Regions from separate parts of the Homo sapiens genome. Here regions 2 and 3 are each linked to region 1. Evidence: fine-mapped expression QTL. A gene starts in region 1. Each other region holds a variant in brackets. All regions are shown on one strand. Distances are between the middles of the regions. Region 1 holds the start of BCL7A (BAF chromatin remodeling complex subunit BCL7A). Region 2 overlaps CFAP251 (cilia and flagella associated protein 251). Region 3 overlaps LOC124903037 (a long non-coding RNA gene).

Region 1 (8,178 bases):
GGTGAAACCCCGTCTCTACTAAAAATACAAAAAATTAGCCAGGCGTGGTGGCGGGCGCCTGTAGTCCCAGCTACTTGGGAGGTTGAGGCAGGAAAATGGTGTGAACCCAGGAGGCGGAGCTTGCAGTGAGCTGAGATCACGTCACTGCACTCTAGCCTAGGTGACAGAGCAAGACTCCGTCTCAATCAAAAAAAGGCCAGAAAATTAAAATCCACGACTCACACTAAGCGGGAGTCCTTTCCCACGATAATCTGGGCCCTGTCGGACTCCACCAATGGTATGCTGGTAAATGTTCAACCACCAGCTCTGGCTGGGGCTGGGGAAGGAGGGTCCTGATGTATAAATCATTTGCCGATTTCCATGGTGTAAATACTCCCTCCACAGCTGATTCCAAACTCTCAGCATGAGGTCACTAAACACAGAGCTGGGAAGCAGAAGCCTGTAAACCATCTGCAGCACATCCCTGGCTCCACCCTCAGACTACAAGAAGTCAACCAGTCTTGCACAACTATGCGGCCAGGATTCGCATCACCTGAGTGGTCGGGGGCTCACAAACCCTGAACTAGGATTGAGGTCACCCCAGACTAGCAGTGACCTGAGGGGCCTGGCAGAAGCAAATATAAATTATTTCTAGGGGGAGGCCTCAAATTATCCCTATGAATAAATTTTAAAATAGTGTCCAGCATGGTCAAAGAGAACCAGGCATATAACAAGGAACTATGACACCATGAGCAAGACCTAGCAGAAACAGACTCTTGGAGACTTCAAATACTAGAATCATCAGACACAGGCTGTAAAACTACTGTGCTTTGTTGAAAGAAAGAAGTGTAAAAATACCTGCAGGAGACAGGAAACTACTAAAAGTGACATACTAGATTTACAAAGGACATTTGAAGAAAGCTTTATGGTTTTATTGGGGATCAAAATCACAAATACTTTCAGGGGCCAGACAGGTAACACAAATGAGTAAAGTGGCTATGAGTGCACTGGTGACCCAGATAACTCTGTCTGAAAGATACAGACAGAGCTCTCTGCTCTAGCCGATGGGTGCCATGTGGCACTGAGGGTCCAGTTTGCAGATCTGCTGGTTCTAGAGAAGCTGGGTATTTTTTTTTTTCCTTCCTTCCTTCCTCCCTCCCTCCTTCCCTCTTTTTCTTCCTTCTTCCTTCCCTCCCTCTCTCCTTCTCCTCATCCCTCTCTCTTTTCTTCTTTCTTTCTTTCGTTCTTTCTTTTCTCTCTCTCTCTCTCTCTCTCTCTTTCTTTGCTTCATGCAGTGGCATGATCTTGGCTCACTGCAGCCTCTACGTTCTGGGCTCAAGCCATCTTCCCCACCTCAGCCTCCTGAGCAGCTGGGGCTGCAGATGCGCACAACCACACCTGGCTATTTTTTGAATTTTTTGTAGAGATGGGGTTTCACCATGTTGCCCAGGCTGGTCTCAAACTCCTGGCCTCTAGCAGTCCACCCACCTCGGCCTCCCAAAGTGCTGGAATCACAGATGTGAGCCACCGCGCCCAGCCTAGATTTCTTTTTATTATGATCAAATACACATAAAATTGACCATTGTAACCATTTAAAAGTGTACAATTCAGCGTCATTAAGTACATTCACATTGTTCTGCAACCATCACCACTATCTCATTCCAGAACTTTCCTATCACTCCGAAAGGAAACCCCACATCCGTTAGCAGTCACTCCTGCTCTCCCTCCCCCTTGCCTCTGGCAACCACCAATCTGATATCTGTCTTTATGGATTCGCCTAGTTGTAGATATCTCCCGCAAATGGACTTACGCATATTTATCCTTTTGTGACTGGCTTCTTTCACTTAGCGTGTTTCAAGGTTCACCCATGTTGTAGCATGTATTCATTCCCTTTTATGGCTGAATAATATTCCATTGTGTGGATAGACACATTTATCTGTTCCTCAGTCACTATTTGAATTCTGACATAATATTTTCCTATTTTAAATTTTAAGATACATTTTTTTAAAGTTTCATGTGGCCCAAAGCACATACCTATTGATCTCACATATCTCTGTGAGATCTGTTTTATGACCTGCTGTTGCATATTTTCCCAGAAAATTCTCGGAACGATTCTCTGAAGTCCTTCTTTCTCTTTCTCTTTTTTTTCTTTTTCTTTCTCTCTTTCTTTTTTTGTTTTGTTTTGTTTTATTTTGTTTTGTTTTGTTTTTTTGAGATTCAGTTTTGCTCTGTTGCCCAGGCTGGAGTGCAATGGCATGATCATTGCACCTCTGCCTCCCAGGTTCAAGCATTTTCCTGCCTCAGCCTCCCGCGTAGCTCAGATTACAGGCCTGCACCACCACGCCCAGCTAATTTTTGTATTTTTAGTAGAGACAGGGTTTCTCCATGTTGGCCAGGCTGGTCTCGAACTCCTGACCTCGTGATCTGCCCACTTCGGCCTCCAAAGTGCTGGGATTACAGGCATGAACCACCGCGCCCGGCCTTTTTTTTTTTTCTGAGACAGGGTCTCACTCTGTCTCCCAGGCTGGAGTGCAGTGGCTGGATCTCTGCTCACTGCAACCTCCGTCTCCCAGGTTCAAGCGAGTCTCCTGCCTCAGACTCCCGAGTAGCTGCGATTACAGGAGCCCACCACCGCGCCCGGCTAATTTTTGTATTTTTAGTAGAGACGGGGTTTCACCCACCATGTTGGCCAGGCTGGTATCGAACTCTTAACCTCAAGTGATCCACCCGCCTCGGCCTCCCAAAGTGCTGGTATTACAGGCATGAGCCACCGCGCCCGGCCAGTATTTGTTCTTTTCTTCATTTTTCACGTCAGGAGACTGCGTTTCAGAATAGTAAAAACAAATGCCTAGGAAAAGGCCTGCGGTCTCTCCATTTCCACAGTAGCGTGTTCCCCAAAGACCAAACCCTCAGGGGAAACGTCTAGAATGAGTAACAACTTAAGGCTGCAACCTTAAACTTTCCCAGGACTCAGTTTCCCCAGCTGTGAAATGGCTGCTGTCGGGCTGTCATCTCCAGGCCCGGGGCGCTGACATTTGGGCCACTCTCGGTCTCCCTCTTCATTCTGGGCGCGCATTAGCTCTGGTCCGGCCGGTTCCGCTGCAGCTGAACAGCAAGATGCGGCACCCAGGTTACCCTGATCATCGCAGATTTCTCCCCGGGGCTCTGTTCTGAGGCCTCAAAAGTGCTCCTTGTAGATGGGACCAGGGGTCATTTGGGCAGTAGCAGCGCCTGGTCTCAGTCTGGTACTGAAGTCAGGAATGGCTTAAGGTGAAATCGTGGTCCTCTGGTGAAGCTCAGCGAAGACCCCCTCGCCTTGTTTATGACAAGAGAACTTCTGGGGGCGGGAGGAAGAGTCCCTGTTACGATGCTGATCATCATTGAGCTTTTGCTGAGCAGAAAACTCTTTAGTACTCAAGGTCGAGAGTCTCTGGTGGTCTGCCTGGCACCAGGCACCTTCCTACAACCCTAGTTTTCCAAAAGGACAAAGCCTGGGGCAGGCGACGTCCTAGCTCGCATTTGAACAGGGCCGCGGGCCAGCAGAGATGCGCGATGCCCAACTCTTTCCAAGAGCACCTCGCGTCCCGAACCGGTGCCTTCAACTCGGAGAAGTCAAGAGACCCGCAAGAAACTTGCACGACTGCACCCGCCGCCGCGCTCTGGGGGCTGGGCAGGGGCAGCTGGGCTGGCTCCCGGGGAACGCGACCCCCCCGCGCCCCGCAGACCGGCTGTCTCCCATGGACCCCTCGGCACCTGCAGCCTCCGAGGAAGGGTCAGCGCGCGTGTCCGCACGCCCGCCCCCACCGCGCGCCCAGAGCCGGGGGTCGCCGTGCGCCCTTCGCCACCTCCCCAGGAGGGCGTCCGGGGCGTCCCCTCTGGGGGCGCAGGAGGCCCGGGGGCGCTGCCCGGTGGCCGCGGCGCCCGGAGGCCGCACTGCCGGCGGCGGCGGCGGCGCGGCTCCCCCTGCTCTGTGCAGCTGCCGCCCGGCGCTTGCGCACTGGGCCAGGCGCGCGGCGGCCCCGGGCTTTGTGTGTGTGTGTATGTGTGTGTGTGTGTGTGTGTGTGTGTGAGTGTGTGCGTGTGAGAGTGCGAGTGTCTGTGCGCGAGTGAGTGAGCGGCGGGCGGGCGCGAGTGTGGCCGCCGCGGAGCGCGAGCAGGACCCGGCGGGCGCGCTCCCCAGCCTCCGTCTCCCCGCCGGAACCATGTCGGGCAGGTCGGTTCGAGCCGAGACGAGGAGCCGGGCCAAAGATGATATCAAGAGGGTCATGGCGGCGATCGAGAAAGTGCGCAAATGGTAAGCGGAGGCGCCCGCCGCCAGCCGCCTCCCCGGCCGCCCCGAGCCCGAGCGCGGCTCCAGAGAGCCGCGGGGCGCAGCGCCCCGGCCGCCTGCCCCGGCCCAGCCCCGCCGCGGGCCCCGGGACTTGGCGAGGGCGGGCGGACGGGCGGGCGGCGCGCGAGCCGGGTCACCTGCGCCAGGCTGGGGCCGCGGCCGCTGCCCAGGTGCGCTCGCGCCTGTAGCCCACCTGGCGCGGCGGCCCGGAGGCGGCGGGCGCCGGGGCCAGGCGGTTGGAGCGGCGGGGCGGCCCCCGCCGCGGCGCTCGGCTCCCGGGAGGGGGGCTCGGGGCCGGCCCCAGAAGCCATTTCGTTTTGTGCAAGTCACATGAAAGCGGCTTCCCGCGCGCCGGGGCCGCGATGCCGGCGGCGGCGGGGAGAGCGCGAGCTCCATTGTGCAGGCTCCGAGCGGGCCGCCGCCGCCGTCTCCTCCCCGCGCACCCCGGCCCGCGCCCCGCCGCCCTCCGCCAGCCCCGGCCCGCCCGGCCGCCCGCTCCCGCCTCCCGGGCCCGGCGCCCTCGAGTCTGCGGAGTTTGCAGAGCGCGAGCCGTTTAAATTTAGCGCTTTGGGCTGCCTGGAGCGAGGGCTCTCGGCGACCAGGAAAGATGGGGGCGAGCGCTGGGAGCCAGCGGCCAGGGGCGCGGGGCGCCCACGTCCCACCCCGCTCTGCGCGGCGCCCCGGGCGGGGGGCTCGGGCCAGCCGATGTTTTTGGCCAGAAGCCGTTCGTCCTGGGCCGCGGCTGCCTCTCCACACCGGGAGCTCGTGTTTGTTTTGCGGAGGGAGCTGTTGTTTTTGTTCTCTGCACCGGGGAGAGGGGGACTTGGTGGCGGCCGCGCGTGGTTTTCGGGATCACATTAGCGTCCGCCCGGCGTGGCCCGGTCGACATTAAGGGGATCGAACCTTTCCGCGGCCTCGTCGGGGTCTGCTCGGAATCGGCCCCTGGGCCAGGCCCGAGGCGCAAGCAGATCGCCAGGTTGGGTCAGAGTTGTTGAAAACTCCCCGCTGCCTGATTTCAACTTTATTATTTTTTTCCCACGCCTTCACTGGGGTCCCGGAGGGAGAGGAGCCGCCGCAACGCTGGCTCTGAGTGTCAGCGCCCGCGGGCTCGTCTCGACCCTTTATTTCGAGCCTGGAAGCTGGGCAGGCCCTGTGGCAGGGGATGTTTACGTTTGGGGGTGTCGTTTCTCGAGTAGCGCCTCGGTCTCTAAAAGCCACTGGGGGCGAGCCTCCGGTGTGGCGGTGTCACAAGTTAGCTGTCCTTTCTGAGTCAAACCCAACAAAAAAGGCAAGAGGAAAATCAATAAAGTCCACGTGCTCCCCGGCCTCCTATGGAAAGGGCTGGCTGCGATGGCCGGATGCCCGGCCGTGGGCTGGGTTTGGCTCCAGTGGGACAAAGAATTTTCAGAACCGTGAGAAGGGGAGGCTTTCCAAAGTTGAGATCCAAGTCGTCGGTGTCTCGGGAGCTCCCCTGGTACACAGGGTGCCCGGTGCCCGACTGGAGCCATTTAAAAATGGCAGAAACAGCTGCAGGCCAACACACACACGCTGGAAAACAACCCGCAGCCCCCTCTACTGTGGGATTCCCCGCGGGAAGCCCGGAGTTGCTCCCCTCCTTGCCTCAGCCCCTGTGCAAAGAAAGAACTGGTGTCTGTGCCTGGGTCCCTTCTGTCGCCGGCCTGGAGGTTGGGAAACAGCCGGCAAGCCGCCTTTCTCTGCTCGAGGAGGCGTGGTGGGGCCTCCTACTCCAGGTTCCCGGCTGGACAGAGGCTCCTGCACCCTGACAGCTGCTCCCGCAGAGCGGCCAGCTGCTCTGCAGGGAGGGCAGATGGAGAGATGGGGCTTCCCACCCCGCGGGCCCCGGGGCGGCCGGCCTGGAGGCCTTCCAGCCCGCTGACCCCGCGGGGACCAGGCCTGTAGTTGGAGCTTGAGGGGCTGTACCTCTGCGCCTCCCTGGGTTTGGGGAAACAACACATCGTGTCCTCTGAAGACCTCAGGCTTTGGGATCTCATGGTCCAGCTTCCAGTTCACTTCGTTGCCGCGACCTTGGGCATATCATTGTCACTTCTCTAACCATGGTGACCCGGGGTTTTGTGCTTGGCTTCCAGGTCCCCTCGGGTTATTGAGGACGATTGAGGTCATGCCTCCGAGAGCACCGCGCCCTGGGCGCAGGAGGAGCTGTTGCTCAGTGTTGTCTGTGTTGTAAGGTGGACTTTGTAGAAACTTGGCTTTGAGGTTTTTTGTTTTTTTTTTTTTTTGGCCCCTTCTAAGCGAAAGCCTTGGACTTATTGCCCAGGTTTCTCTGGCCCCTGAGAAGCCATATCTCACCTTCCCCGCGCCTTCGGATTGGGTCTTAGACTCAGCCCATGAGACTGTGGGTTGTTTATTAATTGTGTGGTCACCAACCATGCATTTCACCACTGGTGGGGGGGTGGGGTTGCCAGGTTTAACCAGATAAAAATACAGCACACCCAGTTAAATTTGAATTTCAGATAAACAATGAAAGATTTTTTTAAAAATAAATGTTTTTGAGTATGTCTCATGCAATATTTGGGACACACTTATACTAAAACATTATCTAATTTATCTGAAATGCAAATTTAACAGGGCACCCTGTATTTTACCCAGAGGGAAGCCGAAGTGTTTGGCAGATCATTTGGCCCCATGAGCCTTGGGTGGGTTTCTCCTCAGCCCTAGTGACCCCTAAAATTACCCCCCCGACCCACCCACTGTCCCCTGATGCTTCCCCCACCCCCGGAAAAAGCTGTGGCCTCCCTCTCATTTGGGGCAGGCTGCCTCCTGTTCTCTTTTTCTGGTGTTTCAGCAAGGCAGGCCAGTGGAGGTGAGGTGACCAGAAGATGGCTAAAGGGAAAACAAAATGGTGGGCCTCTTTTTGGGAAACTGGGCCAGGGTTTGGGGGCCCTGTGCTGGTGGAGGAGAGAAGACCCCAGGGCGATGGTAGGAGACGAAAGCTTGGGCTGCAGCGTAAGCTTGGAGGCCCGCTGCGGTGGCTCACGCCTGTAATCCCAGAGCTTTGGGAGGCTGAGACAGGAGGATTGCTTGAGCCCAGGAGTTTGAGACCAGCCTGGGTCTCAAACCAAAAAAAAAGAAAAAGAAAAAAAAGAGCCGGGCGCGGTGGCTCACGCCTGTAATTTCAGCACTCTGGGAGGCCGGGCAGGCGGATCACGAGGTCAGGAGATCAAGACCATCCTGGCAAACATGGTGAAACCCCGTCTCTACTAAAAAAATACAAAAAAATTAGCCAGGCGTGGTGGCGGGCGCCTGTAGTCCCAGCTACTTGGGAGGCTGAGGCAGGAGAATGGCGGGAACCCAGGAGGTGGAGCTTGCAGTGAGCGGAGATTGCGCCACCGCACTCCAGCCTGGGCAACAGAGCGAGACTCCATCTCAAAAAAAAAAAAGAAGAAGAAGAAAAAAGAAAAATTAGTCTGGACGCAGTGGCTCATGCCTGTAATCCCAGCACTTTGGGAGGCCGAGGCAGGCAGGTCACCTGAAGTCAGGAGTTGGAAACCAGCCTGGCCAACATGGTGAAACCCTGTCTCTACTAAAAATACAAAAAATTAGCTGGATGTGGTGGTACACGCCTGTAATCCCAGCTACTCTTAAGGCTGAGGCAGGAAAATTGCTTGAACCTGGGAGGCGCAGGTTGCAGTAAGCCGAGATCGCGCCACTGCACTCCAGCCTGAGCAACAGAGCAAGACTCCATCTCAAAAAAAAAAAAAAAAAAAAAAGAAGAAAGAAAAGAGAAAAGGCCGGGCACGTTGGCTCACACCTGTAATCCCAGCACTTTAGGAGGCCGAGGAGGGAGGATCACGAGGTCAGGAGATCGAGACCATCCTGGCTAACAGTGA
Region 2 (8,178 bases), 33 kb before region 1:
TTCACGGTGTTAGCCAGGAAGGTCTCAATCTCCTGACCTCCTGATCCGCCTGCCTTGGCCTCCCAAAGTGCTGGGATTACAAGGTGTGAGCCACGGCGCCCGGCCTAGAAATCATTTTTAAATGAAAGATCTGCAGCATGTATAATGTTATCAAAGGAACCATAGCTTAGGTGTCATCGTTTCTACAGATGATTTCACATACAAGGCAGTTCCATCCTCTATCTTTATAAATGTGTCTTTTCCTCCAGGATGTTGGACTGTCCACGTTGGGATGGGGCCCAGCATATCATTCGTTTCCTGCTTACTTGCAACTTCACTTCTTTTTAGCTTGCAGAGTGTTGTATAATCTTGACAGGTTTGGGCAGGGAATTAACATTGGTGCAACCACCTAGTTCTGTAAACTTAAGTCTAATCCTGTAGAGACGTATGTGCCCAGCAAGTGCCCACATGGTGGACGCTTGGCAAATGTTGATGGAATGAGTGAATGAATCAATGATGCTCATTGGTCATATTCGACAGCAGAGACAGTGAGGAAGACACAATCCCTGACATTATTATTTGATCTCAGTGTAATTCTTAGTAACCCTAATGTGTTTGATATATTCAGGAGCTTGGGCATAGCTTAGGAGCATTTAGAAAGGAATTAAATAGTCACTTAACTTTTTATTTTATTTGCTATTTATTTTTTGCTTAACTTTAAAAATGTATATATCTTTTGACTCAACAAATGTACTTTTAAGAGTGTATCCTGGCCAGGCGCGGAGGCTCACGCCTGTAATCCCAGCACTTTGGGAGGCCGAGGTGGGAGGATCACCTGAGGTCAGGAGTTCGAGACCAGTTTGGCCAACATGGCCAAACCCCGTCTCTACTAAAAATACAAAAATTAGCTGGGCATGGTGGTGCATGCCTGTAATCCCAGCAACTCCAGAGGGTGAGGCAGGAGAATCGCTTGAACCCAGGAGGCAGAGGTTGCAGTGAGCTGAAATGGTGCCACCATACTCTCCAGCCTGGGCGACAGAGCAAGACTCCATCTCAAAAAAAAAAAAAAAAAAAGGGAGTGTATCCTACAGAAAAACTCACCCAAGTTTATAATGATGTACATATGGAAGGAATAATTTTAAATATATAATATATATAAATATTGAGATGGAGTCTCACTACGTTGCCCAGGCTGGTCTCAAACTCCTGGGCTTAGGCAAGCCTCTTGCTTTAGCCTTCCTAGTTGCTGGGACTACAGGCCCTCCAAACCTGTACTTGACCTGAAGGGACAATTGTTGTCACATAGTCTATTGTGTTGAAAATCAAAACAACACTGATATCCATTGATAGGAGATGAGATTAATAAAATAAGGCACACCTACAAGTGAGATTGGCCTGGTACTGTGTCTCTTCACCTGTATTCCCAGCACTTTATGAGGCCAAAGTGGAAGGACCGCTTGTCCTTGGGAATTCAAGACCAGCCTGAGCAGCGTAGTGAGACCTTGTCTCTACAAATTATTATTATTTTTTTGAGAGAGTCTTGCTGTTTTGCCCAGGCTGGTAGGCAATGGCGTGATCTCGGCTCACTGCAACCTCCACCTCCTGGATTCAAGCAATTCTTCTGTCTCAGCCTCCCGAGTAGCTGGAATTACCCGCAGTGCCACCATGCCCAGCTAATTTTTTGTATCTTTAGTAGAGATGGGGTTTCGCCATGTTGGCCAGGCTGGTCTCGAACTCCTCACCTCAGATGATCCTCCCACCTTGGCCTCCCAAAGTGCTGGGATTATAGGCATGAGCCACCATGGCTGGCCACGAATTTTTTTTTTTTTTTTTTGGAGACCGAGTCTCCCTCTGTCACCCAGGCTGCAGCGCAGTGGCACGATCTCAGCTCACTGCAAGCTCCGCCTCCTGGGTTCACACCATTCTCCTGCCTCAGCCTCCTGAGTAGCTGGGACTACAGGCACCCGCCACCACGCCTGGCTAATTTTTTTTTTGTATTTTTAGTAGAGACGGGGTTTCACCGTCTCTACAGTGATCAGAGGATCACTGACCTCGTGATCCTCCCACCTCGGCCTCCCAAAGTGCTGGGATTACAGATGTGAGCCACCGCGCCCAGCCGAATTTTTTTTTTTTTAATTGCTGGATGTAGTGGCTCACGCCTGAAGTCCCAGCTACTCAGGAGGCTGAGGTGGGAGGATCACATGAGCCCAGAGGTCAAGGCTGCAGTGAGCCATGATTGCACCATTGCTCTCCAGTATGGGCAACACAGTGAGACTCTGTCTCAAAGAAAAAGAAAAAAAAAAAAAAGCCCATCTAGGGGTTCTATAAATAAAAGGCCGTTTCATTCAGTGGCATCTGCCCTCCTTAGGAGACAGTTGTGGCTATAAATTTGGGGAGACCTCGGACATACATTTCTGTACTATTTAAGTTCTCCTAACTATAAACATGCAGCTTGTGTTGCTTTTGTATTCAGAACAAAAACGAGAAAGATAAACAAGCAAATCCCCCCAAAGCCCTGTGTGCTAATCTTCATGGCTAAAGCAGGGTCCCAGCTGGGATGGAGGTCTGTAGCCAAGTGGTTCAGCCTCACCCATAACGAGGGGGGTAATTTGAGCCAAGAAGCACAGGGACAATTTCTGTTCTGATAAAGACCCCGAGGGAATTTGGAAATTTGCACTTTGAAGAGAAGCCCTCAGTATGTTGGGTCTTGCCCTGAAACGTAAATATCAGCAGGCATTTCCATCCTGAAGGTAATAGAAGTGGCCCAGTGTTCTAGGGGAGGCCTTCCTGGCCAACAGAGAGTCCGTGGCCAGGCCCCTGCCCAGCGAGAGGTGGGCTTCCTGCAGAAAGATCAGAGCAAGACAAAACTATTTCTGCTTTTCACATGTAAAGCATTTAAAGAAATAAATCTTGGATTACTATGCAGCCATTAAAAAGAATGCAGGCGATAGAGTCCAGGCCTGGTGGTTCATACCCGTAATCCCAGCAGTTTGGGAGGCTGAGGTGGGCGCATCACCTGAGGTCAGGAGTTCGAGACCACCCTGGCCAACATGGTGAAGCCCTGTCTCTACTAAAAATACAAAAATTAGCCAGGCATGGTGGCGCACACCTGTAATCCCAGCTACTCGGGAGGCTGAGGCAGGAGAATCGCTTGAACCCGGGAGGCGGAGGTTGCAGTGAGCTAAGATGGCACCATTGCACTCCAGCCTGGGCAAGAAAAGCGAGACTCCGTCTCAAAAAAAAAAAAAAAAAAGAATACAGGTAATAGTAATGCATAATACCATTCTGGGAAAGTGAGGCCTAGAGAGAGAAGAAAGATTGTATAGTCACTTAGCTACCGAGGGCACAGCCAGGGTTTGAACCAAGCTGGCTGACCCCCAACTCCAGGTTCTGTTCCTACGTATGTATGAGTTGGTACAAAGAAGGAAGAAAACCCTAAAAATTCTGGCATCCAACACTGGTTATTGCTGCAGGACGGGGAATTTCAGGGCATTTTATTATTATTTTTCTTTATATCTCCATTGTTAGAATTTTTCATAACAAGCATGTTTCACTCTTGACTGGTTTTATGATATAAAAGGGTAGATCACAATGATGGTGGAAGATATATTTTAAAAATATTTTAAATATTTTTAAATATTTTTAAAAATATTTCAAAAATATTAAATTAATGTTCTTAGAATCGAAATGTTGTTACTTGCCATTGCCATGGCTTCTCCATATTATTTATTTTCTTTTCTTAAAAAAAACTTTATTGAGATATACCACATACCACGTAATTCACCTGTTTAGAGGATGCAGTTCATTGGTTTTTAGAATGTCCACCGAGTAGTGCAGACATCACCACCACGTAATCCTAGAACATGTTTATCATCCCAAAAAGAAACCCCAGACCCATGAGCACTCACTTCCCATTTCTCCTTCAACCACCGATGTGCTTTCTGTCTCTATGGATTGGCCTATCTTGGCATTTCATATAAATGGAGTCATGAAATATGTGGTCTTTTGGGTCCAGCTTCTTTCACTCACTCAGCATCATGTTTTCCAGGTTCATCCAGGTTGTAGCTTGTCTCAGTCCTTCATTCTTTTCTTTATGATTGAGTAACATTCTATTCGTTCATGTAGATATGCCACATTTTATGTATCCATTCACGAACAGATGGACATTTACGTTTTCCCATTTTCTTGGCTATTATGGATAAGGCTGCTGTGAACATTCGTGTGCAAGTTTTTTGTTGTTGTTGGATTTTTTTTTCTTTTTTTTCTCTTTTTTTTTTTTTTGAGATGAAATCTCCCTCTGGCTGGAGTGCAATGGCGCGATCTCGGCTCACTGCAGCCTCTGCCTCCCAAGTTCAAGTGATTCTCCCACCTCAGCCTCCCGAGTACCTGGGACTACAGGTGCCCGCCCCCACGCCCAGCTAATTTTTGTATTTTTAGTAGAGATGGGGTTTCACCATGTTGGCCAGGCTGGTCTTGAACTCCTGACCTCAAATGATCCACCCAACTTGGCCTCCCAAAGTGCTGGGATCCCAGATGTGAGCCACGGTGCCCGGCCCACATCACTTCTTCACTTGAGCTAGGAACCATCTGGGGCTTTAGGGTGCATGAGGCAGGATCAGGATTTTAGAGAGCTGTGGACACAGAATTAGCAAATCCTTGATTGTGGGTTTGGTACAAGGTGCAAGACTTGTCATTCAGCTAGGACTGTCTCTTTCAGACCTTTGAAAACATTCACTGGGAAGGGAAGAGTCCCTGGAGGTGTTTGAGACCTGGGCTCTGATGCAGGGCAGGGTGACAGTCACTCTAAAGGGCCCTGTGAATGGGTGTTGTTCACATGGAGTAGAAGACAGTGGGCAAGAGCACCAGGCCAGGCCTTGGCTGCTGTCACCTGAGACTGCGTCCAGAGGGCAGAACTGTGCATGC[A/G]TGCCCCACTCCTGGAAAAAGAGGCAGTCGCCATCCAGATCTAGTTCCTGGAGGGAGGTATGGAGCAGTTGGGGTCACAGTGTTGCATGAATCGCAGAGGGGGCGCTCACAGGGGTCTCCAGATGTGGCCATGCAGTGACGCTGCCCAGCCCTTACGCCCCCTCCTCAGCCCACTACTCCCTGCCCCGGGTCAGCGAGGAGATGCAGGGGGTGACCAGGGGAGGGTATGAGTGAAGATGATGAGTGGGAACAAGACACTGTGCCCCATTAGTTGAGAATGTTCTAGAGGGTATTGTGCGTTGGGAAGAGGGCGTGGGGAAGAGGGTGAGTGCTCCCAGTCCTACTGGTCCATGAAACCATTAGAAAAGCAAACCTGCCCCCACCAGGAGCCTGCTTATAAAAACAAGGAATGGCCCCAGTTCAAATATATCGTGTTCCTCTCCATTTAATAGGGAGGTTGTAAAACTTAATTATAGAACATAATTCTAAGGACATCAATGGCTTCCTGAGGCTGACAGCAGGGATCACAGACCCAAAGGCCTGCGTCATCAATGACAGAGGCAGAAATAAGATGCTCTCGGGTGAGGGGACTCCAGCCCACCACCAAGAGGCCACCCTCATGTCTTGGGGCCTGGAGCAGTCGGGGCAACAGAGGCCCAGATGCTGTATGTCTAAATGTTTAAAAGTTACCAATCAAGCAACAAGCTGATAAATAAATATTCCCCCTTGACAGTTCAACCTTCAACATGAGCTGATTCAAAGTTCACACCCGAATGGGCAGCATGCAGGGCCAAGCCAAGCTGGGCCTGCCCCATGTGTCCTCCCAGCTCTGACCCCATCCCTGGCCACTGTGTGCATGGCATTCAGGAGGTGGACCCTTCTCTATACTCTCCAAACAGCAGCCCCGGGGCACCCTTCAGGCCTATGGGTGGGCAACACCAGGGGCACAGGTTGGCCTCAGGAGGGTGAGATCCCCATGGGCCCCGGAAGTGGGCTTAGGTTATGTAGGGGAGAGAAGCCTCGGGTTCAGGTACCCAGAGTGTGGTCTAGAATTGGGTGCATGGGCTCGGGGTGGGCACCTCCTCTGCACCCTCCTCCTCATGCTTGTTTCCCAGCATACAGTGTCTTCCTCTGACCTCCTACTGGCCAAACCCTTCATGGCTCTGCAGTAGGCCCACCTCTTCCAGGAAGCCTTCCCGAAGCCCACCTGGCTGAGAGCTCCTCCAACCTTTGATGATGTTCTCCTGCATCTTGGCACTGAATCTTCTAGAGCCACGGTAGCCAACCTTTTAAAATCAGTTGAGGGCACTTAAAAAAATACATCAGTATTTTTACACCTGATTTTTACACCTGGGCCCCAGCCTTGTGCAACAGAACCTAGGGGTGGAGTCTAAGCATGGACAGTTTTTAAAGCCCCAGGCAGCCAGGGCTGAGGACCTTGGCGATGGAGCCTGTTAGTTCGCTTTCCTTGTGTATATCGTCTCTTGAGCATCTCTTCACATGGCCCAGACCTTAATAGACACTGAATAAATATTTGCTGACCCCAGTGACTAAGATTGAAAACCAGAATGCAGAACTGTTCTAGTAATAATTGAGAGACTTGTATTTCATTGGCTTTGCACTAAACCAAATGCTCAGTAACTACTAGTAAATCGAGTAAAATTAACTAGGGCACTAAATGATTATTCTAAGCTTCTTGTGAGTTTCAAGAGAATTCTTTTTGTGGCCTCACTTGTGTCCACATTATTTACTTCATCATTCATTCATTCATCCATTCATCCATCTATCTATCCATTCAGTAAACATTTCTCTGAGCCTCTATAATGTGCCAGGCTCTGAACTAAGCTGCCGGGGAAATAGAGATGAAAGCTCTGGCTACAGCTTAATGGGGAAAACAGATGTGAGCCCAAAGAATTAGAGCGTGCACCGCAGCTGCCACCCATTATTACTCTCTACTGAAAGTCACAAGCTTGGGGCTGATTCATTTTGGCACCAGTATCACCTCCGTGAACCCCTGTGGTCTAAGAGCAGCAGTATTCAAAGTGTGGTCCCCAGACCAACAGGATTGACTTCACGTGACCTAGGGACTTACAAGAAATGCAAATGGTCAGACCCTATCCCAGACTCAGAAACCCCCCAGGTGGGACCAGCAGTCTGTTTGAACAAGACCTCCCGGTCATTGTGAAGCCTGACATGTCAGCGAGCCTTTGCCTTCCAGCCATGTTTCTCAAGCTTGGCTACGCATTCAAATCATTCGAATGAGAAGCTTCCAAAAATTTGGTCCCCAGACCAATTAAATCAGGATCTCAGCTGGTTGTGGTGGCTCATTCCTGTAATCCCAGCAATTTGGGAGGCCGAGGCAGGCAGATCACTTGAAGTCAAGAGTTTGAGACCAGCCTGGCCAACAGTAGGAACCCTGTTGCTACTAAAAATACAAAAATTAGCCAGCTGTGGTGGCGCGCGCCTGTAGTCCCAGCTACTTGGGAGGCTGAGGCAGGAGAATTGGTTGGACTCAGGAGGTGGAGGTTGCTGTGATCCGAGATCACGCCACTGGACTCCTGCCTGGGCGACAGAGTGAGACTATCATCTAAAAAAAAAAATCAGGTTCTCAGGGAATAGGATCTGGGCCTCAGAACTGTTTAAGCTCTCCAGGTGAATGGAATAAAGCCCCGCCTTAGCAGGCGTGAGAATGCCAATCAAAGGCCAGGCTGACTGACAACCACCAGTGCGTCTGGGCCGCTCAGCTAGGACTCCTGCTTCTCTCAAGCCATCTTCACACGGGGGCGTTCAGAACAAGCTCTGCGTTCTATTTCCAGCTCCGAGGTTCCTCTCCCAAGCATGAACTTTGTTCAGACAAGTAGCAGAACCTGCCTTTTCAACGAACACTTGCGAAGTCGGCTCAGGAAGGAAATGTCAGTGATGCCGAAGCTGCCAACTCCGTGCTTGTTGAGTAGTGATTCTTGATCAGTCATACGGGAAGAGAGAGTAAGAGGTGAATCACATGCTGAGTGGTTTGTGCTGTGAATGTTTGCTGAGCTCTTTGGAACTCTCTGGGTATGAGTAACTCAGGCCCTTATGAATTCCTTTTGTCGTCTTAGTCTCCTGTTCTGAACTGAGTTAAATCATATATTACATTGGTAATTTATATATATTTATATATATTATTTCTTTTTTTTTTCTTTTTCAGACAGGGTCTTACTCCTCACTCCTGTTGCCCAGGCTGGAGTGCAGTGGCACAATCACGGCTCAGTGCAGCCTCCACCTCCCGGGCTCAGG
Region 3 (8,178 bases), 640 kb before region 1:
CCGTAAAAGGAAACCCCGTGTCCACTAAGCAATTACTCCCTATTCCTCCACTCTCCTCAGCCCCTGGAAACCACCAGTGTGCTTTGTGTCTCTATGGATTCATTTATACCGGGCGTTTCATACAAATAGACTCAGCCAGGCATGGTGAATCCTGCCTGTAAGCCTAGCACTTTGGGAAGCAGAGGCTGGAGGATCATTTGAGGGCAGAAGTTTGAGACTAGACTGGGCAACAGAGCAAGACCCTGTCCCTGCAAAAACAAGGGGGGGATGTGATACAGTATGTGACCTTTCGTTTCTGGCTTATTTGACTTAGTAAAATGTTACCCAGATTCATTCATGTTGTAACATGTATCAGTACTTCATTTCTTATGGTTGAATAATATTCTGTTGTGTATATATACCACAATGTTTTAATCCATTCATCAGTTGATGGAAATTTGGGATATATCTGTCTTTTGACTCTTGTTTATAGCACTGCTATGAACATTCATGTACAAGTATTTGTTCTAGTATATGTTTTCAGTTCTTTTGAGTATATACTTAGGAGTAGAATGCTAATTCCTTTTTTTTCTTTTTTTTTTTTTTTTTTGGGAAACAGAGTCTCGGCCGGGCATTGTGGCTCACACCTGTAATCCCAGCACTTTGGGAGGCCAAGGTGGGTGAATCATGTGAGGTCAGGAGTTCGAGACCAGCCTGGCCAACATGGTGAAACCTCGCCTCTACTAAAAATACAAAAATTAGCCAGGCGTGGTTGTGCGTGCCTATAATCTCAGCTACTGGGGAGGCTGAGGCAGGAGAATTGCTTAAAACCCGGAAGCAGAGGCTGCAGTGAACCAAGATTGTGCCACTGCATTCCAGCCTGGATGACAGAACAAGATTCCATCTCAAAAAAAAAAAAAAAAAAAAAAGAAACAGAATCTTGCTCTGTTGCCCAGGCTGGAGCACAGTGGAGTAATCTCAGCTCACTGCAACCTCTGCCTCCCAGGTTCAAGTGATTCTCCTGCCTCAGCCTCCCAAGTAGCTGGGAATACAGGCATGTGCCACTGTGCCTGGCTAATTTTTATATTTTTAGTAGAGATGGTGTTTCACCATGGTGGCCAGGCTGGTCTTGAACCCCTGACCTCAAGTGATCCATCTGCCTCAGCCTCCCAAGTTCTGGGATTACAGGCGTGAGCCACTGTGCGCGGCCAGGAACTACCTTTTTGTATTCTAAGAGTTAGCTCCAAACTAGTCAATGCTGAAGGCCTTGACATTACAATTCTCATTTGTTTCTAAAATACATAAAGACGCTAAAACAATTGGCTTGATGGAAAAAAAAAGTTCAACTCAAGATAAACACTGCATGATCTCATTATGTGTGGTATCCAAAGAAGTCTAACTCATAGAAACGAGAGTAGGTTGGTTGACAAGAGCCATAGGGAGGGAGAAACAGGAGAATTTTGGTCAAAGGAAAGTTTCAATTATAAGATAAATAAATTCTGGAGATCAAAAATATAGCATATGGTAACCGTAACTAATAATAATGTAGGCCGGGCGCGGTGGCTCACGTCTGTAATCCCAGCACTTTGGATGGCCAAGGCGGGTGGATCACGAGGTCAGGAGATCAAGACCATCCTGGCTAACATGGTGAAACCCCATTTCTACTAAAAATACAAAAAATTAACCAGGCATGGTGGCGGGCGCCTGTAGTCCCATCTACTCGGGAGGCTGAGGCGGGAGAATGGCGTGAACCAGGGAGGTGGAGCTTGCAGTGAGCCAAGATTGTGCCACTGCACTCCAGCCTGGGCGACAAAGCAAGACTCCGTCTCAAAAAAATAATAATAAATAATAATAACAATGTATTGTATACTTGACATTTTCTAACACAGTAGAACTTAGTGTTCTTGCCACCAAAAAACGGTAATTACATGAGGTGGTGGATATGTTAATTAGCCTTTCGGTGGTGATCTTTTTTTGACAACGAGTTTCGCTCTTGTTCTTGTTGCCCAGGCTGGAGTGCAGTGGTGCCATCTGGGCTCACTGCAACCTCCACCTCCCGGGTTCAAGCGATTCTCCTGCTTCAGCCTCCCAAGTAGCTGGGATTACAGGCATGGGCCACCACGCCTGGCTGAATTTGTATTTTCAGTAGAGACGGGGTTTCTCCATGTTGGTCAGGCTGGTCTCGAATTCCCAACCTCAGGTGATCCGCCCGCATCGGCCTCCCAAAGTGCTGGGATTACAGGCATAAGCCACCACGCCTGGCTGTGGTGATCATTTTACAGTGTATAAATATATCAAAACATATTGTACACCGTGAATATATACAGTTTTTATTTGTCAATTACACCTCAATAAAGATGGGAGGGAAAGAAAAAGAAAAATGTTTAACTCTACCAAAAATAAAAGAAATGCAAATCAAAATAAGAAAAATGCCATTATTTAGACTCAGAAAGCCAGGCATGGTGGTTCATACCTGTAATCCCAACACTTTGGGAGGCTGAGGCAGGAGGGTTGCTTGAGGTCAGGAGTTCAAGACCAGCCTGGGAAACATAGCAAAACTCTACCTCTACAAAAAAAAATTTTTGGCCGGGCGTGGTGGCTCATGCCTGTAATCCCAACATGCTGTGAGGCTGAGGCAGGTGGGTCACTTGACGTCAGGAGTTAGAGACCAGCCTGGCCAACATGGTGAAACCCCATTTCTACTAAAATACAAAAATTAGCCGGGCATGGTGGCAGGCACCTGTAATCTCAGCTACTGGGGAGGCTGAGGCGTGAGAATCACTTGAACCGAGGAGGTGGAGGTTGCAGTGAGCAGAGATCGCACCACTGCACTCAAGCCTGGGTGAAAGAGTGATACTCTGTCTCAAAAAAAATTTTTTTTTTTTAATTAGCCAGATGTGGTGGCACGTACCTATAGTCCCAGCTACTCAGGAGGCTGAGGTGGGAGGATTGCTTGAAACCAGGAGTTTGAGGCTGCAGTGAGCTGTAATTGTGCCACTGCACTGCAGCCTGGGTGACAGAGTAAGATTCTATTTCTTTTTTTTTGGGGGGGTGGGGACGGAGTCTCGCTTTGTCTCCCAGGCTGGAGTGCAGTGGCACTGTCTCTGCTCATTGCAACCTCCACCTCCTGGGTTCAAGCAATTCTTTTGCCTCAGCCTCCAGAATATTAGAGGGATTAGGGTTGGGATTACAGTTGCCTGCCACCATGCCCGGCTAATTTTTGTATTTTTAGTAGAGATGGGGTTTCACCATGTTGGCTATATGCTGGTCTTGAATTCCTGACCTCAGGTGATCTGCCTACCTCGGCCTTTCAAAGTGCTGGGATTATAGACATGAGCCACCATGCCCAGCTTGATCCTATTTCAAATAAATAAATAAAATAGACACAGTATTGGCCAAGATTTGAGTAAATTAATAAGCGCTGATCAGAGTGCAGAGAATTGGGCTGTTTCTATACAAAACCAATAGAAATGCAAATTGATACACCCATTCTCTGGAAAAATTTGAATGTAGCCTGGACAACATAGCAAGACCCCCATGTCTTTAAAATAATGAGAACATCTGTGTTCTAACGCATAGTGCTTAGCTTTTTTTTTTTTCTTTTTTTTGAGAAGGAGTCGAGCTCTGTTGCCCAGGCTGGAGTGCAGTGGCACAATCTCGGCTCACTGCAACCTCTGCCTCCTAGGCTCAAACAATCCTCCTGCCTCAGCCTCCCGAGTAGCTGGGACTACAGCTGTGTGCCATGCCCGGCCTCTGGCCAGCATACTTTTTAAAAATTGGAAGACTCGGATGGGCACGGTGGCTCACGCCTGTAATCCCAGCACTTTGGGAGGCCAAGGTGGGCGGATCACGAGGTCAGAAGATGGAGACCATCCTGGCTAACACGGTGAAACCCCGTCTCTACTGAAAATACAAAAAATTAGCTGGGCATGGAGGCGTGCGCCTGTAGTCCCAGCTGCTGGGGAGACTGAGGCAGGAGAATGGCGTGAACCGGGGAGGTGGAGCTTGCAGTGAACTGAGATGCCGCCACTGCACTCCAGCCTGGGCGACAGAGCAAGACTCTTTCTCAAAAAAAAAAAAAATTAGAAGACTCAGTAAATGTTAAGTCTGGCTGTTGTAATTGTCAGATGTACATCAAAATGCTGGTACTGCTTATCTTTAAGTAGTGGAATCGTAATTTTAATATTCTTTTGTACACTTTTCTATATTTCTACAATAATGCATTTT[C/T]CTTTTGTAATCAGAAAAAAAAAAGAAAATTAAGATTTCGGTCCTCATAGCCGTCTTTATAGTCAACTTTCTAAGCAAGATAACTTTGCTTAAGGTAATTCTCACTGCTGTGGGACAGTGATTCCATATTGGATAAAGGCTTCGATATTTTTGGAAAGGCATCCCAATCTTTGCTACCCTCTCTTCTAATAAGAGTCGAGGTGAACACTATCAAACAACTGAAAAATACTTCTATCAGGTCAGCGCTCCAGGATATTTCTATTCTTAGACATAATAAGATTTGGAGAGCAGTGCTTTAGAGGCTGGGCAAGAATTTTAGAAAGCTAAGGATTACAACAGATCTGGACATTTCTCCCCCATCCCCATTAACAGTCATGAACTGAAAATTTCTATTAGGGGTCATTCATTTACAGGAAAAACAACGAAAACCAAGAAACTTGGATTATGTCATTCATCTACTAACATTTTTTATGGCACCCCTGTGCCTATTCTAGTACCTACACATTACTCAGCCAGGCATCTGAGGTCATTTTAAAGATAATTTTCAGGCAGGTGTGGTAGCTTAGGCCTGTAATCTCAGCATTTTGGGAGGCTGAGGTGGGAGAATTGCTTCAGCCCAGGAGTTCCAGACCATTTTGGGCAAGAGGGCAAAACTCCATCTCGACAAAAATTACAAAAATTAGCCAGGTGTGGTGGCGCCCACTGGTGGTTCCAGCTAATCAGGAGGCTGAGGCAGGAGGATCGCTTGAGCCCAGGGGTGGAGGCTGTAGTGAGCCGTGACTGTGCCACTGCACTCCAGCCTAGGCAACAGAGCAAGACCCTGTCTCAAACAAAAAAAAAAGTGATATTCAGAGCGACTTGAAACATGGATCTGAATCTAGGTACTGGAGTTTCCACTTTCAGCTTCGGGACTATCAGTTCACACCCAGCTATAAACATATCGAGCAAATTCCTAGAACTCTTCTATGAGTGTCATATCAATATACACACCTGCATATGTGTACTGCTGAGCCACCGCGCCTGGCCAAAAGTATTTTTTTCAAGCGTCTAATGGTGTAATAATTAGCCATTCAAATTAAAGGGGCCATTCTAAAGAATTAGCTTCAGCAGGTGGTGTGGCTCAGGCCTGTAATCCCAGCACTTCGGGAGGCCAAGGCAGGTGGATCACCTGAGGTCAAGAGTTCGAGACCAGCCAGGCCAACATGGAGAAACCCCGTCTCTACTAAAAAAACCATGAAAATTAGCCGAGTGTGGTGGTGTGCACCTGTAGTCCCAGCTACTCAGGAGGCTGAGGCAGGAGAATTGCTTGAACCTGGGAGGTGGAGGTTGCAGTGAGCTGAGATCTTGTCATTGCACTCCAGCCTGGACAACAAGAGCGAAACTCTGTCTCAAAAAAAAAAAAAAAAAAAAGTTGAAGTAGGGGAGATAAGAATTAAATAGAATTGAATCAGTTGAAACAAAAAAAAATTCAATACAAGATGAAAAGAGCTGTTTTGGAAATCTTGGCAGCAGTGCTGAAAAGAAAAGGCTATTTTATTAACCTTTTAGCAAAGACATAGTCAGATGTGTGTTCAAGAATACCATTTGAAATTATAGTCTTACAAAATTACTACAGGCAGCCAGGAATGGTGGGTCATGCTTGTAATCCCACCACTTTGGGAGGGCGAGGCAGGAGGATTGCTTGAGGCCAGGAGTCTGAGACCAGTCTGGGTAACATAGTGAGATCTTGTCTCTACAAAAAAAAAAAAAAAAAAAACGGGCCAGGCATGGTGTCTGTAGTCCCAGCTATTCAGGAGGCTGAGGGGGGAAGATCACTTGAGCCAGGAAGGTCAATGCTGCAGTAAGCCATGATCTTGCCACTGCACTCTAGCTTGGGCAATGGAGCAAGAGCCTGTCTCAAAAAGAAAAAAAAAAAGTACTGCTACAAGTATTGTGACTCTAGAAGGTGTAAGGGTTTCAGAATGAGGATGGACAAAGGTTGACATTTTTGGGAACAATTATTAGGCACATGTATCTCTTTTTTTTTTTTTTTTTTGAGATGGGGTCTCACTCTGTTGCCCAGGCTGCAGTGCAAATGGTGCAATCTCGGCTCTTCGCAACCTCTGTCTCCCGGGTTCAAGCAATTCTCTTGCCTCAGCCTCCTGAGTAGCTGGGATTACAGGCGCACGCCACCATGCCTGGCTAATTTTTGTATTTTTACTAGAAATGGGGTTTCACCATGTTGGTCAGGCTGGTCTCTAACTCCTGACCTTGTGATCCACCCACCTCGGCCTCCCAAAGTGCTGGGATAACAGGCATGAGCCCCCCGTGCCCAGCCTAGGCACATGTATATTCTTACATGATTGTAAATGAAGGTGGTGATGGATAAGAGTACTAATCTTTTTATCCTGCATAGTCTGAAATTGGAATTTTCAAGGCAACTCTTCTTATCACAACCATCTGAATGTCTCCTTCCCTGAATGTCTACTTTATTCATTTATCAGTTGATAATGTTCGTATTTCATTGCGTCTGTCTAATTTGGCTATAAATGTGCAAGAGCGTCAGCCTGTCTGCCTTGGATTGTAAACTGTTAGAGGAGAGAGGCAAGGTTTAGCTAATTCTCTGTGTGAATCATTTAGCATGGCATAGCACTACACACAATCAAGGTTTTAATAAATGTGTTGATTATGATCTTTGAAAAAAGGCTTAGTCCCATTTATCGTCTTCTCGACCTTGTCAGCACTTCTCAAGAGGGTGGGGAGAGTTGACTTAATCTACATTTTTTTTTTTTTGAGACAGAATCCCACTCTGTCATCCAGGCTGGAGTGCAGTGGTGTGATCTCGGCTCACTGCAACCTCTGCCTCCCCAGGTTCAAGCAATTCTTGTGCCTCAGCCTCCCAAGTAGTTGGGATTACAGGTATGCGCCACCATGCCCGGCTAATTTTTGTATTTTTAGTAGAGACAGGGTTTCACCATGTTGAACAGGCTGGTCTCAAACTCCACACCTGAAGTGATCTGCCCGCCTTGGCCTCCCAAAATGCTGGGATTACAGGCGTGAACCACCGCACCTGGCCTACTTTTAATACCTGAAGCTTATGCTAAATACGATAACTGCAACGTATCAGTGACGTCTGTTGGTGAATGTCTGAAATGTATTTTCACATTTCTGTAGCTGTTTGAGATGATATTACTTATATGGTACTTGGACACTTGACTTGAAGTAAATATGTTTTAAAATTGAATCACTTCAGTGTGAAATTCAAATTTTGTGGAATCCAAAAATATTTATTTTGACTTTTGCCAACTGTTATTGGGGATGGAATGCCTAATCCTTGAATTGTAACTTCAACAGAAAGGTCTCATTACCAGCACAGGGGTGAACAAAGGCTCAAGGAGACAGGAGACTTCTATATTTTGCCTCTTAACTATTTTTATTACAGTCAGTGATGTTAATCTCTAAAATATCCCAATAAATTAATGTAATCACTGCAGTTTTCTTTTTTTTTTTTTCTTTTTTTGAGACAGAGTTTCACTCTTGTTGCCCAGGCTGAAGTGCAATGGCACGATCTTGGCTCATTGCAACCTCCATCACCCGGGCTCAAGCGATTCTCCTGCCTCAGCCTCCTGAGTAGCTGGGATTACAGGCATCTGCCACCACGCCCGGCTGATTTTGTATTTATAGTAGAGACGGGGTTTCTCCATGTTGGTCAGGCTGGTCTCGAACTCCCAACCTCAGGTGATCTGCCCACCTCGGCCTCCCAAAGTGCTGGGATTACAGGCGTGAGCCACCATACCCAGCAGTTTTCTATCCATTCTATCAATATTCTATGCATTCATTCATATTTATTAAGTTGTCTATTATGTGCTAGGTTTTGAAATGTATAAAGAAGATGAAGGCCAGGTGTGGTGGCTCACACCTGTAATCCCAGCACTTTGGGAGGCTGAGGTGGGAGGAACACTTGAGCCCAGGGGTTTGAGATCAACTTAGGCA

The links. PIP is the estimated chance that this variant, and not a neighbour inherited with it, causes the effect.
Region 2: its variant is fine-mapped to the expression of BCL7A in whole blood (INTERVAL, PIP 0.98).
Region 3: its variant is fine-mapped to the expression of BCL7A in testis (GTEx, PIP above 0.99).

Annotation. Positions count from the first base shown.
Region 1 is chr12:122,017,911-122,026,088 of GRCh38, forward strand. It overlaps BCL7A (BAF chromatin remodeling complex subunit BCL7A), which reads left to right and starts at 3,974. Exons shown (of 6, transcript NM_001024808.3): 1 at 3,974-4,273. The coding sequence starts at 4,182. RefSeq lists silencers at 3,853-3,932, 4,063-4,382, 4,533-4,692, 6,173-6,262 and an enhancer at 4,527-5,342.
Region 2 is chr12:121,984,502-121,992,679 of GRCh38, forward strand. All of the region lies in intron 19 of CFAP251 (cilia and flagella associated protein 251), which reads left to right. Among named protein-coding and RNA genes, the nearest start is that of BCL7A, 33 kb to the right of the region's middle. RefSeq lists enhancers at 6,534-6,583, 7,666-7,765. The variant A/G (reference allele first, on the strand shown) is at 4,903.
Region 3 is chr12:121,378,794-121,386,971 of GRCh38, forward strand. All of the region lies in intron 1 of LOC124903037 (a long non-coding RNA gene), which reads left to right. Among named protein-coding and RNA genes, the nearest start is that of RNF34, 17 kb to the right of the region's middle. The variant C/T (reference allele first, on the strand shown) is at 4,207.